Linked DNA regions of Homo sapiens. The protein of the gene in region 2 interacts with the protein of the main gene of each other region in a pairwise test. Each region holds a gene or a part of one and is shown on either strand. Other genes may lie near its edges. The genes, in order: RCC1, CHGB and PKN2.

The links.
Region 1: the proteins of CHGB (region 2) and RCC1 interact in a two-hybrid assay, tested with the Homo sapiens proteins (one large-scale study listed by BioGRID and IntAct).
Region 3: the proteins of CHGB (region 2) and PKN2 interact in a two-hybrid assay, tested with the Homo sapiens proteins (one large-scale study listed by BioGRID and IntAct).

What each region holds. Positions count from the first base shown.
Region 1 is NC_000001.11:28,512,427-28,516,081, reverse strand, and holds part of RCC1 (regulator of chromosome condensation), read right to left. Parts: intron 1-3,655. UniProt on the Homo sapiens protein: Guanine-nucleotide releasing factor that promotes the exchange of Ran-bound GDP by GTP, and thereby plays an important role in RAN-mediated functions in nuclear import and mitosis.
Region 2 is NC_000020.11:5,917,943-5,921,597, reverse strand, and holds part of CHGB (secretogranin-1 precursor), read right to left. Parts: intron 1-3,655. UniProt on the Homo sapiens protein: Secretogranin-1 is a neuroendocrine secretory granule protein, which may be the precursor for other biologically active peptides.
Region 3 is NC_000001.11:88,690,673-88,694,327, reverse strand, and holds part of PKN2 (serine/threonine-protein kinase N2), read right to left. Parts: intron 2,605-3,655; exon of another isoform or gene 2,548-2,604; intron 1-2,547. UniProt on the Homo sapiens protein: PKC-related serine/threonine-protein kinase and Rho/Rac effector protein that participates in specific signal transduction responses in the cell.

The DNA.
Region 1 (3,655 bases), on a different chromosome or scaffold from region 2:
CCTCCTGAGTAGCTGGGATTACAGGCGCCTGCCACCATGCCCAGCTAATTTTTGTATTTTTAGTAGAGACGGGGTTTTACCATGTTGGCCAGCCTGGACTTGAACTCCTAAACGTCAGGTGATCCACCCGCCTCAGCCTACCAAAGTGCTGGGATTACAGGCGTGAGCCACCGCGCCTGGCCATTTTGTGTATTTTTAGTAGAGACCGGGTTTCACCATTTTTGCCAGGCTGGTCTGGAACTCCCGACCTCAGGTGACCTGCCCATCTTGGCCTCCCAAAGTGCTGGGATTACAGGCATGAGCAACTGCACCTGGCCTTTATTTTTATTTTTTTAGTTTTGTATTTGTATTTTTTATTTTATTTTGAGATGGAGTCTCATTCTGTTGCCCAGGCTGGAGTGCAGTGGTGCAATCTCGGCTCACTGCAACCTCTGCCCCCTGGGTTCAAGCAATTTTCCTGCCTCAGTCTCCAGAGTAGCTGGGATTACAGACACGCACCACCATGCCCGGCTCATTTTTGTATTTTTAATAGAGACAGGGTTTCACCATGTTGGCCAGGCCGGTCTTGAGCTCTTGACCTCAAGTGATCCACCCATCTCGGCCTCCCAAAGTGCTGGGATTACACGTGTGAACTACTGCGCCCAGCCCCAGTTGTTTGTCTCAAGAGTCTCACTCTGTCATCCAGGCTGGAGTGCAGTGGCAGGATCTCGGCTCACTGCAACCTCTGCCTCAGCCTCCCGAGTAGCTGGGACCACAGATGTGCACCACCATGCCCAGCTAATTTTTTTTTTTGAGACGGAGTCTCACTCTGTTGCCTAGGCTGGAGTGTAATGGCGTGATCTCAGTTCACTGCAATCTCTGCCTCCTGGGTTCAAGCAATTCTCCTGTTTCAGCCTCCCGAGTAGCTGGGATTACAGGCGTGCACCACCACGTCCAGCTAATTGCCCATCTAATTTTTGTATTTTTGGTAGAGACAGGGTTTCACTATGTTGGCCAGGCTGGTCTTGAACTTCTGAGCCTCAGCAGTCAGCCTGCCTTGGCATCCCAAAGTGTTGGAATTACAGGAGTGAGCCATCGCAACTGGCTGATATGGAGGTTCTGGCTGTAATAATGTACTGTGGGTTTTATAACATATATAAAAGTAAGACACATGACAATATCAAAGACTATATAGTGAGAAATGGAAGAAATATTTATTTATTTTTTCGAGACGGAGTCTCGCTCTGACCTCGTGATCTGCCTGCCTTGGCTTCCCAAAGTGCTGGGATGGATTACAGGCGTGAGCCACTGTGCCCAGCCGGAAGATTGTTTTTTTTTTTTGAGATGGAGTTTTGCTCTTGTTGCCCAGGCTGGAGTGCAATGGCATGATCTCGGCTCACTGCAACCTCTGCCTCCCAGGTTCAAGCAATTCTCCTGCCTCAGCATCCCGAGTTGCTGGGATTATAGGCATGTGCCACCATGCCCGGCTAATTTTGTATTTTTAGTAGAGACGGGGTTTCTCCATGTTGGTCAGGCTGGTCTTGTACTCCCGACCTCAGGTGATCCGCCAGTCTCAGCCTCCCAAAGTGCTGGGATTACAAGTGTGAGCCACCACACCAGGCCGCCAGAAGGTTTTTTTTTTGTTTTTTTTTTGAGACGGAGTCTCGCTCTGTCGCCCAGGCTGGAGTGCAGTGGCGCGATCTTGGCTCACTGCAAGCTCCACCTCCTGGGTTCATGCCATTCTCCTGCCTCAGCCTCCCTAGTAGCTGGGACTACAGGCACCCGCCACCACGCCCGGCTAATTTTTTGTATTTTTAGTAGAGATGGGGTTTCACCGTGTTAGCCAAGACGGTCTTGATCTCCTGATCTCGTGATCCGCCCGCCTCGGCCTCCCAAAATGCTGGGATAACAGGCGTGAGCCACCGGGCCCCGCCTTTTTTTTTTTTGAGACGGAGTCTTGCTCTGTTGCCTAGGCTGGCACGATCTCAGCTCACTGCAACCTCTGCTTCCAGGTTCAAGCAATCTTCTGCCTCAGCCTCCCAAGTAGCTGAGACTACAGGCGAGCACCACCACACCTGGCTAATTTTTTTTTTTTTGTATTTTTAGTAGAGGCGGGGTTTCACCATATTGGCCAGGCTGGGGAAGATTCTTATACTACAAGTGAACTGGTTTAATATCAATTGAATGTGGACTATTGTAAGTTAAAAATGTATAATATGGCTGGGCATGGTGACTCATGCCTGTATTCCTAGCACTTTGGGAGGCCAAGGTGGGAGGATTGCTTGAGCCCTGGAGGTCAAGACCAGCTGGGACAACATCATGAGACCTTGTCTCTACAAAAAATACAAAATTTAGCCAGCCATAGTGGCACATGCCTGTGGTCTTCACTACTCAGGAGACCGAGCTGGGAGGATGGCTTGAGCCCAGGAGTTCCAGTTTAAGGCTGCAGTGAGTCATAATCTTGCCACTGAACTCTGGCCTGGGTGACAGAGTGAGACCCTGTCTTAAAAAAAAAAAGTAAATAGCCTAAACACTCCAATTAAAAGACATAGACTGTCATACTGAAAAACCCAACATGTTACCTACAAGAAATAAAATTTTAAAATAAGGCCAGGCACGGTGGCTCATGCCTGTAATTCTAGCACTTTGGGAGGTCAGGGCAGGCGGACTGCCTGAGCTCAGGAGTTTGAGACCAGCCTGGGCAACATGGTGAAACCCCATCTCTACTAAAATACAAAAAAATTAGCCAGGCATGGTGGTGCATGCTGTAGTACCAGCTGCTCCAGAGGCTGAGGCATGAAAATTGCTTGAACCTGGGAGGCAGAGGTTGCAGTGAGCTGAGATCGCATCACTGCACTTCAGCCGCGCAAACCCCATCTCTACTAAAAATACAAAAAAATTAGCTGGGCGTGGTGGTGCGTGACTGTAATTCCAGCTACTCCGGAGGCAGAAGTTGCAGTGAGCTGAGATTGTGCCACTGCACTCTGGCTTTGGCAACAGAGTGAGACTCTTGTCTAAAAAAAAAAAAGAGGCTGGGCGCGGTGGCTCACACCTGTAATCCCAGCACTTTGGGAGGCCGAGGCGGGTGGATCACAAGGTCAGGAGATTGAGACCATGGTGAAACCCCATCTCTACAAAAAATTAGCAGGGCATGGTGGCAGGCACCTGTAGTCCCAGCTGCTGGGGACGCTGAGGCAGGAGAATGGTGTGAACCCAGGAGGCGGAGCTTGCAGTGAGCCAAGATTGTGCCACTGCACTCCAGCCTTTGGAGACGCAGTCTCCAAAAAAAAAGAAACTAGCAAGGATAGATTTGAACAACACTAATACAACAACAATAATACACTTTCAAGTAGCCCATAGATCAAAGAATAGAAAAGGAACTCAAAAATATTTTGAAATGAATTAAAATGAAAACAAAACATACCAGAATTTGTGTGTTGTTAACAGTATCTGGAGGAAATTTATAGCACTAAATGCCTACATTAGAAAAAAAGAAAGGTCTCCAATCAATGAGCTCAGCTACTAGCTTAAGAAACTAGGAATAGATGAGCAAACTAACCCCAAAATAAGCAAAGAAAATAATAAAGATAAAAACAAATCAATAAAAAAGAACACAGAAAAATTAAATCAGCCAGTGCTTGCTATATGGCAGGCACAGTACAAGAATAAGTACTGA
Region 2 (3,655 bases):
AGTTATCTTTGTGTTTCCAGAGTCAGAGTACATGGTATAACTGATATTTTAATTGAATGCTGTTCTCGTCCATCTTTTCCAAATATCAATAGCTCCTTTACTAAGTCCTCCTTAACTCAAGGGCACCCCATGAAAGGAGATAGGCAGTTAGCATTGTCTCAGTTGTTAGCTGGGAGGGCTTGGATTTCAACCTATGTCACAGAGTTCAGATAAAATGCCTGAAGCCAAGGCCACTGACAGCTCTGGGTCTACACTGCAGGCACCATAAGCCCAAGTGCTGTTGAGCACTTGAAATGTGGCTGGTCCGATCTGGGACATGCTATATATGTAAGATACACATCAGACTTCTGAGAATAAAGAATAATGTAAAATAATCTCAACAATTTTTATATCATTATATGTTGAAATAATATTTTGGATGTATTGGATAATATATATTTCAAATAGATCAGATTTATAAAATTATATATCAGAAAAAAATTGGATAAAAATAAAATATATTATTGAAATTAATTTCCACCTGTCTCTTTTTACTTTTTAAATGTGGTTACTATAAAATTTGAAATTATATTTGTGGCTCACATTATATTTCTATTGGGTGGCACTGATAAGTTATTTTGAAATGATATTTGCAAAATGGAAAAAAATTATTTATTTTGTAAAAATGTCCAAGAAATAGTGGACTCTCTGTACCTCTCTGTTTAAAGTCCAGTCTGGCATGATAATAATATTCTCATGTTTATGAGGCAATGAAAATGTCCCTGGCCTTTTCCAGACATCTGAGAGAAGGCCCATCTGTCACCAGTCTCTTTGCCTCTTAAAAGCCAGTGGTGGTGTGTATAGCATTGGGGCATGGCTAGCCAGATGGGCACAGGGAAGCATGGTGGCTCTGGGCAGTGCTATTGACTAAATGTTTGTGTGATTCCAAAATGTTGAAGCCCTAATCCTCAATGTGATAGCACGTGGAGGTGGGGGCCTCTGAGAGGTAATTAGGTCATCAAGGTAGAGCACTTACAATGGGATTAGTGCCCTAAGAAAGGAGATATGAGAAAGAGATGATTTCTGTCTCCACCAGATGAGGATACAGTGACAGAAGGCAGCCATCTACAAGCCAGGAAGTGGGCCCTCATAAGACACTCTGATCTTGGACTTCCGACTGCTGTAACTGTGAAAAATAAATGTTAGTTGTTTAAGCCATCCAATCTATGGTATTTGATATAGCAGCCCAAGCTGACTAAGACAGACAGATACTGATGTCATTCTGAGAGTTGGTTGAAATAGAGCTGATCAGACAAGATCTCAGCCTCCAGGGGCCGAGTCACTGTGGTCCCTTTCCTACTGCCTACTGGTTTGTGAGTCTTAAGTGTCAGGAACAGAAGTATTTTTATTTTTTCCCAATTAAATATGTACTGCCTGAGCAGCATGTGCCTGAGGCTTAGCTCTTCCTACTAAATTTAGCTTTAAGCCCCGCAGGTGGGCCTGGAAGAGGCTGTGATAGCAGCACACACTCACTGTCAAGCTGTAAAATCAAGCTGTGAAGCTCACACTTACTTTCAAGCGAAAACAGGGAAATGCATCTGTCATGCTGTAAGGATGACCAGATCAACCCTAGTCAAAGAGATTCTTGTACCTGTGAAGAAATTAGACTACGTCTTCCCTGAGGTCTCTCAAATCCATAAAACAATGATTCTGTCCTACTCCCCAAATACTCATTTGCTCAGTGAGTATATGCTGACTCTGAGACATGCAAGTAGGAGTGGGAGTGGAGATGGGCGTGGGGTGGAACAGAGGCTGTATAAAGGCATTCATCCAACCAGTTGGGCAAAAGCTCCACCAGTCTTCTGATCAGTTTACGACATGCCAACAAGAGAGAGAGAACTAGAATAGGATAAAAGTTGCAAACTGGTGCATCAGAGGTAAATTCTGTTTGACCTAAACAGCAGTTTTAGTACATCTGAATTCAGAGGCGATATGAAAATACCAGGAGATGTCTTTTAAAAATCAAAATTTTAACTTCTTTTGAAAAATCCCAAGATTTGACAACATAGTCTGTATTTCTCCATAACGGGTTTAGAGCTGAGAATTACCTGCTCCCTCTCAGAAAAGGCATGTGCCCTCCAGTCTGTGAGTCACTTCCTGTCCTGCCTTACTCTTTTGTGTTATTTGTCTGTCTAGCTCTGCCTGGTGTTTAAGGCTCAACCACAGAAGAGCTCTTAAACCTTCGCCATCTCAGCATTCTGTCACTCTCTGGGTATAACATCTCCAGGATCCTTAGATACATTTGATTTTTCCCAGTTTCCCTACGTCTCTCTCAACAGACACCAAAAGACCTCAGGGCATAATCAGGGCTGGAGCAGAGGCTAGAGTTACTATGCCATAATCTAAGGGCTAAGATCTTGGCAGGCAGGCATAGGCAACTTTTCCTAAGCAACTGTGGTTCTTTAGTGAGCTGATGGGACAGGCCCCTCACTTTTGCATTGGTCTAGTAAACAAAGAAAGGGAAAGGGAGATACCAAGATGGGTTTGCCAAAAGGAGCAGCCTTTACTCTCTGCCTAGTGACCCACTCTGCTCTTACTCACTTCCTGTAACTGCTGGAAAAAAGAAGTTGGAAAGAAACTCAGAAAGAGGTATGTGGGCTGGGAGTGGTAGGAAAGCTTCCATCCACTGTTTCTAGGGTCCCTAAAGGCTCAGGCCCCCACAGCTACCATTGTTACCTGAAGCCCCCAAAGATTGAATTAATTCAGGTTGCTCTTTTTTTTTTTTTTTTTTTTTTTTTTTTTTTTTTTAGACAGAGACTCGCTCTGTCACTGAGGCTGGAATGCCGTGGGGCAATCTCGGCTTACTGCAACCTCCACCTCCTGGGCTCAAGCGATTCTCCTGCCTCAGCCTCCTGAGTAGCTGGGACTACAGGCGTGTGTCACCACGCCCGGCTAATTTTTTGTATTTTTAGTAGAGATGGGGTTTCACTGTGTTAGACAGGATGGTCTTGATCTCCTGACCTTGTGATCCGCCCGCCTCAGCCTCCCAAAGTGCTGGGATTACAGGTGTGAGCCACTGCGCCTGGCCTCAGGTTACTCTTTTGGCCAATCACTATTTGCTTTTTACCATTTCATGCATGAGGGCTCATGTATAGCTATAGCAAGAGAGTCTTGTCTGGCAGCGAGAGGTGTTTATTTGGTGTTTTTTTTGTTTTTGTTTTTGTTTTTGATGGAGCCTCACTCTGCCACCCAGGCTGTATCCAGGCTGGAGTGGAATGCCACGATCTCAGTTCACTGCAACCTCTGCTTCCCAGGTTCTAGCGATTCTCCTGCCTCAGCCTCCCAAGTAGCTGGGATTACAGGCGCCCGCCACCACACCCAACTAGTTGTTGTATTTTTAGTAGAGATGGGGTTTCACCATATTGGCCAGGCTGGTGGCAATGAGAGTTTTTTTTTTTTTTTTTTTTTTTAGATGGAGTCTTACTCTTGTTGCCCAGGCTGGAGTTCAATGGAGTTCAATCTTGGCTCACTGCAGTCTCTGCCTCCCAAGTTCAAGCAATTCTCCTGTCTCGGCCTCCTGAGTAGTGGGATTACAGGTGCCTGCCACCATGCCTGGCTAATTTTTTTTTTTTTTTTTTGTATTTTTAGTAGAGACAGGGTTTCACCATGTTGGCCA
Region 3 (3,655 bases), on a different chromosome or scaffold from region 2:
GGAAACTGTAAAAAGATCAGTGGTTGCCAGGGGATGGAGGAGAGGGAAGGATGAATAGGTAGAACACAGAGAATAAGCTTAGTGCAGGGACACTATTCTGTATACTATAATGCTGGATACATGTCATTATACATTTGTACAAACCCATAGAATGCACAACACCAAGATGTGTGCACTCTGGGCTCTGGATGATGATGATGTGTCAATATAGGTTCATCAACTGCAACAAATGTACTCTTGTGGAGGATGTCGATAATGCATATGTACATATGTAGGGACGCAGTTATTTGAGAAATCTCTAGACCTTCCTCTCGATTTTGCTGTGGACCTAAAACTGCTTTAAAATATGAAGTCTATTAAAAAACAACAAATCCAGATAAACTGACTTAAATCTAAAAAATAAAACTGCAAGATTCTTAGGAGCAAACTTGGGTAGCTATCTTTTAAACCCAGGATAGGGAATAATTTATTTAAAAGGGCATGAAAAGCAATTACAGTAAGTCCTCACTTAACACTGCTGATAGGTTCTTGGAACTGAGACTTTAAGAAAAACAATGTGCTTCAGGTCCTTTAATAATGCTGTTTCGCTCAATATCATTTCTTTTCTTTCTTTTTTTGAGACAGGGTCTCACTATGCTGCCCAGGTTAGAGTGCAATGACACGATTCCAGCTCACTGCAGCCTTAACTCTTGGGCTCAAGTCATTCTCTCACCTCCACCTCCAAAGTAGCTGGGACTACAGGTGTGCATCACCACTTCTGGCTAATGTTTCATTGTTTATAATATCATTTCCTTAGAACACTGATGAGAAAAAAGAAACTGGTTTCATTATAAGTTATTTTGCTTAAAGTCAGTTTCCAAGAACCCGTCAATGACATTAAGTGAGGACTTACTGTATGATAAACAATGGACAAATTTGACTTAAGAATTTTTTTTATCAAAAGATGCACAGCAATGACAAAAACTGTATTTAGGATTCCGAGTTTGTAAACTTCTGAACTAGTAAACTGTTCAGAAGATTAATATTTTGCTTTATATCCAGTATTAAATCTGATCAACTCCAGCATTTTAATGGCAAGCTATGAAAATACCTAAATAACTGACTCACATAATCTTACGGAATATACTGCCCTTTAAACAAAAGAATAAAATATTATTAATGACTAATAATAAGTAGTTTGCAACAGAGAGGTATGGAATTGGAAAATAAGCAACTGATGAAGTGTATGTATAATTTTTGCTATTTCTTTGCTTCTGAATTTACTCATTAACTAAATCAACCTAGCATTTGGGTGCCTAGCATGTGTGAAGCAATACAATATTTTATACAACTTCCTATGGCTGTTCATTTGGATAGTTTACAAATCCCCAGGCCATAAACTATTAATATAACTTTACCCTTTCTATACCAAATGTACAATAGATATTAAATACAAGCCTGTTGATGATAACGATGTAAATTATTCCAAATATTTGCCAAAGAAGGTAGAGGCATTTAAAACTGTCCCTCCCACACAACTCCATAAAAGAAAGCGAAAAAGTTAGGAACTGAAAGAAGACATTCACAATGTACACAGAGGATTAACATAAGCAATATAAAGAACTCTTATAAACTAGTAAGAAAAACAAAAATAGGCAAGAGACATAAATAGGAATTTCACTGAAGAAGCCACGTAAAAAGGCCGACAAACATAAAAAGAAGTGTTCTACATCAGTGATAACCAGGAAAATGCGCATCAAGACCACAATAAGGCAACATTTTACACCCTTATGATTTGTAAAACTTAAAAAGAGAATATCAAGTGTTGGAGAGGATGGATAACCAAAGGATCTTTTATTTCATATATTGCTAATATGAATATAAATTGGTGCAACCATATTGAAAGTTCTGCATCATCTCTTAAGTTGAACATTCACCTACCCTGTGAGGCAGCAATGCTACCTCTAGGTATATAATAGGAACTGTGGCACATGCACAGTAGGAAACATGCAGACTGTCCATAGGATCTTTGCTTATAATTACAAACAAAACAAAACAAAAAATGGAAAATAACTGCCCAACAAGGGAGAGTGGATAAATATCCAAATATCCACCAAAGTAGAGTTAATGAATATTTTACTCAATGAAATATTATATAGCAATTTAAATAATGACTATAGCAACATGCAAAAATGTGGATAAATCTTATTTATAACAGGTGAAAAATCAAGTTCAAAAAGATTATATTCACAATTCTATACAAACAACTAAAAGATGTTTAGATTTATATGTCCAACTAAACTATACACAGTAGTCTCCTTTTATCCACCGAGAGACCTTCAGTAAATGCCTAAAACCACGAACAGTACTAAACTCTATTTACACTTTTCCTTTAACATACATACTTATGCTAAAGTTTAATTTATAAATTAGGCACAGTAAGCAATTAACAATAACTAATAATAAAATAGAACAATTATAACTATACTGTAATTACAGTTATGAGTGTGGTTTCTCTCAAAGTATCTTAGTACTTATAAATATCTTATAGTACTATACTGTACTCACCTATTTTTGGACCACAGTTGACCATGGGTAACTGAAACCGTGGATAAGGAGGGACTACTATATAAGGAAGAGAATGAACACAGGACTCAAAAATGATGACCTAGATGACAAGAAGGTGGAAATAGACGGATAGAATAGAGGAAAACTATACGTAGGTTAAAGTTCCTAGCTTGTTTTGAGAGAGGGGGAGTGGTGGTCCATGAGTACTTATTAAAATGATTGACAGACAGATAGGTGATTAATCCAATGCAGTGTGCCTGATGTTTAACAAATTTTTTAAAAATCCAAAAGTTGCATAAAATTTGTTCAATGAAAATTCTGAAATGGAGAACAAACACCTCCTTAAAGAATCCCTAAGGTAGCAACTACAGGGAAGGGAAAACAGTATGATTAATGTGTAAAATATATGATACTCAGGCCAGGCACAGACGCTCACATCTGTAATCCTAGCACTTTGGGAGGCCAAGGCAGGTGGACTGCTTGAGTCCAGCAGTTCAAAACCAACCCGGGCAACATGGCAAAACCCCGTCTCTCCAAAAAAATATAAAAATCAACCATGCATGATGGCTCACACCTATAGTACCAGCTACTTGGGAGGCTGAGATGGGCGAATCACTTGAGCCCAGGAGGCAGAGGCTGCAGTGAGCCGAGATCACGTCACTGCACTTCAAGCTGGGTGACAGAACGAGATCCTGTCTCAAAAATAAAAATAAAAATAAAATAAATAAAAAACTCTCAGCACATGTATTGTGTGGTATGTCTTCTATAATCAAAAATAAATTCCAAATTTTGTCATAACTACATTCCATTAAATTAAGGTACTTATGAGCCAGGGCAGTAAAACTTTCACCAATTTGATAAGTCACTGACAAATTTCTAAAAGAGATAAATCCTAACAATATTATGTAAGTCTTGTATATCCACTCATCTTTATGAGGCACTTCAACACTACCTTCACATTTAAGGTGTTTACTGTCATCAAGTACACTGTCCCATGCTTTCTTGATCTTCATTTTTTACAGGCAATATTTATGTATATAATGTTACACAAATTTCATTTTTGTGATTGCAAAAAAAAACCAAGTATGATAATAGAGCTAGTTTCAAA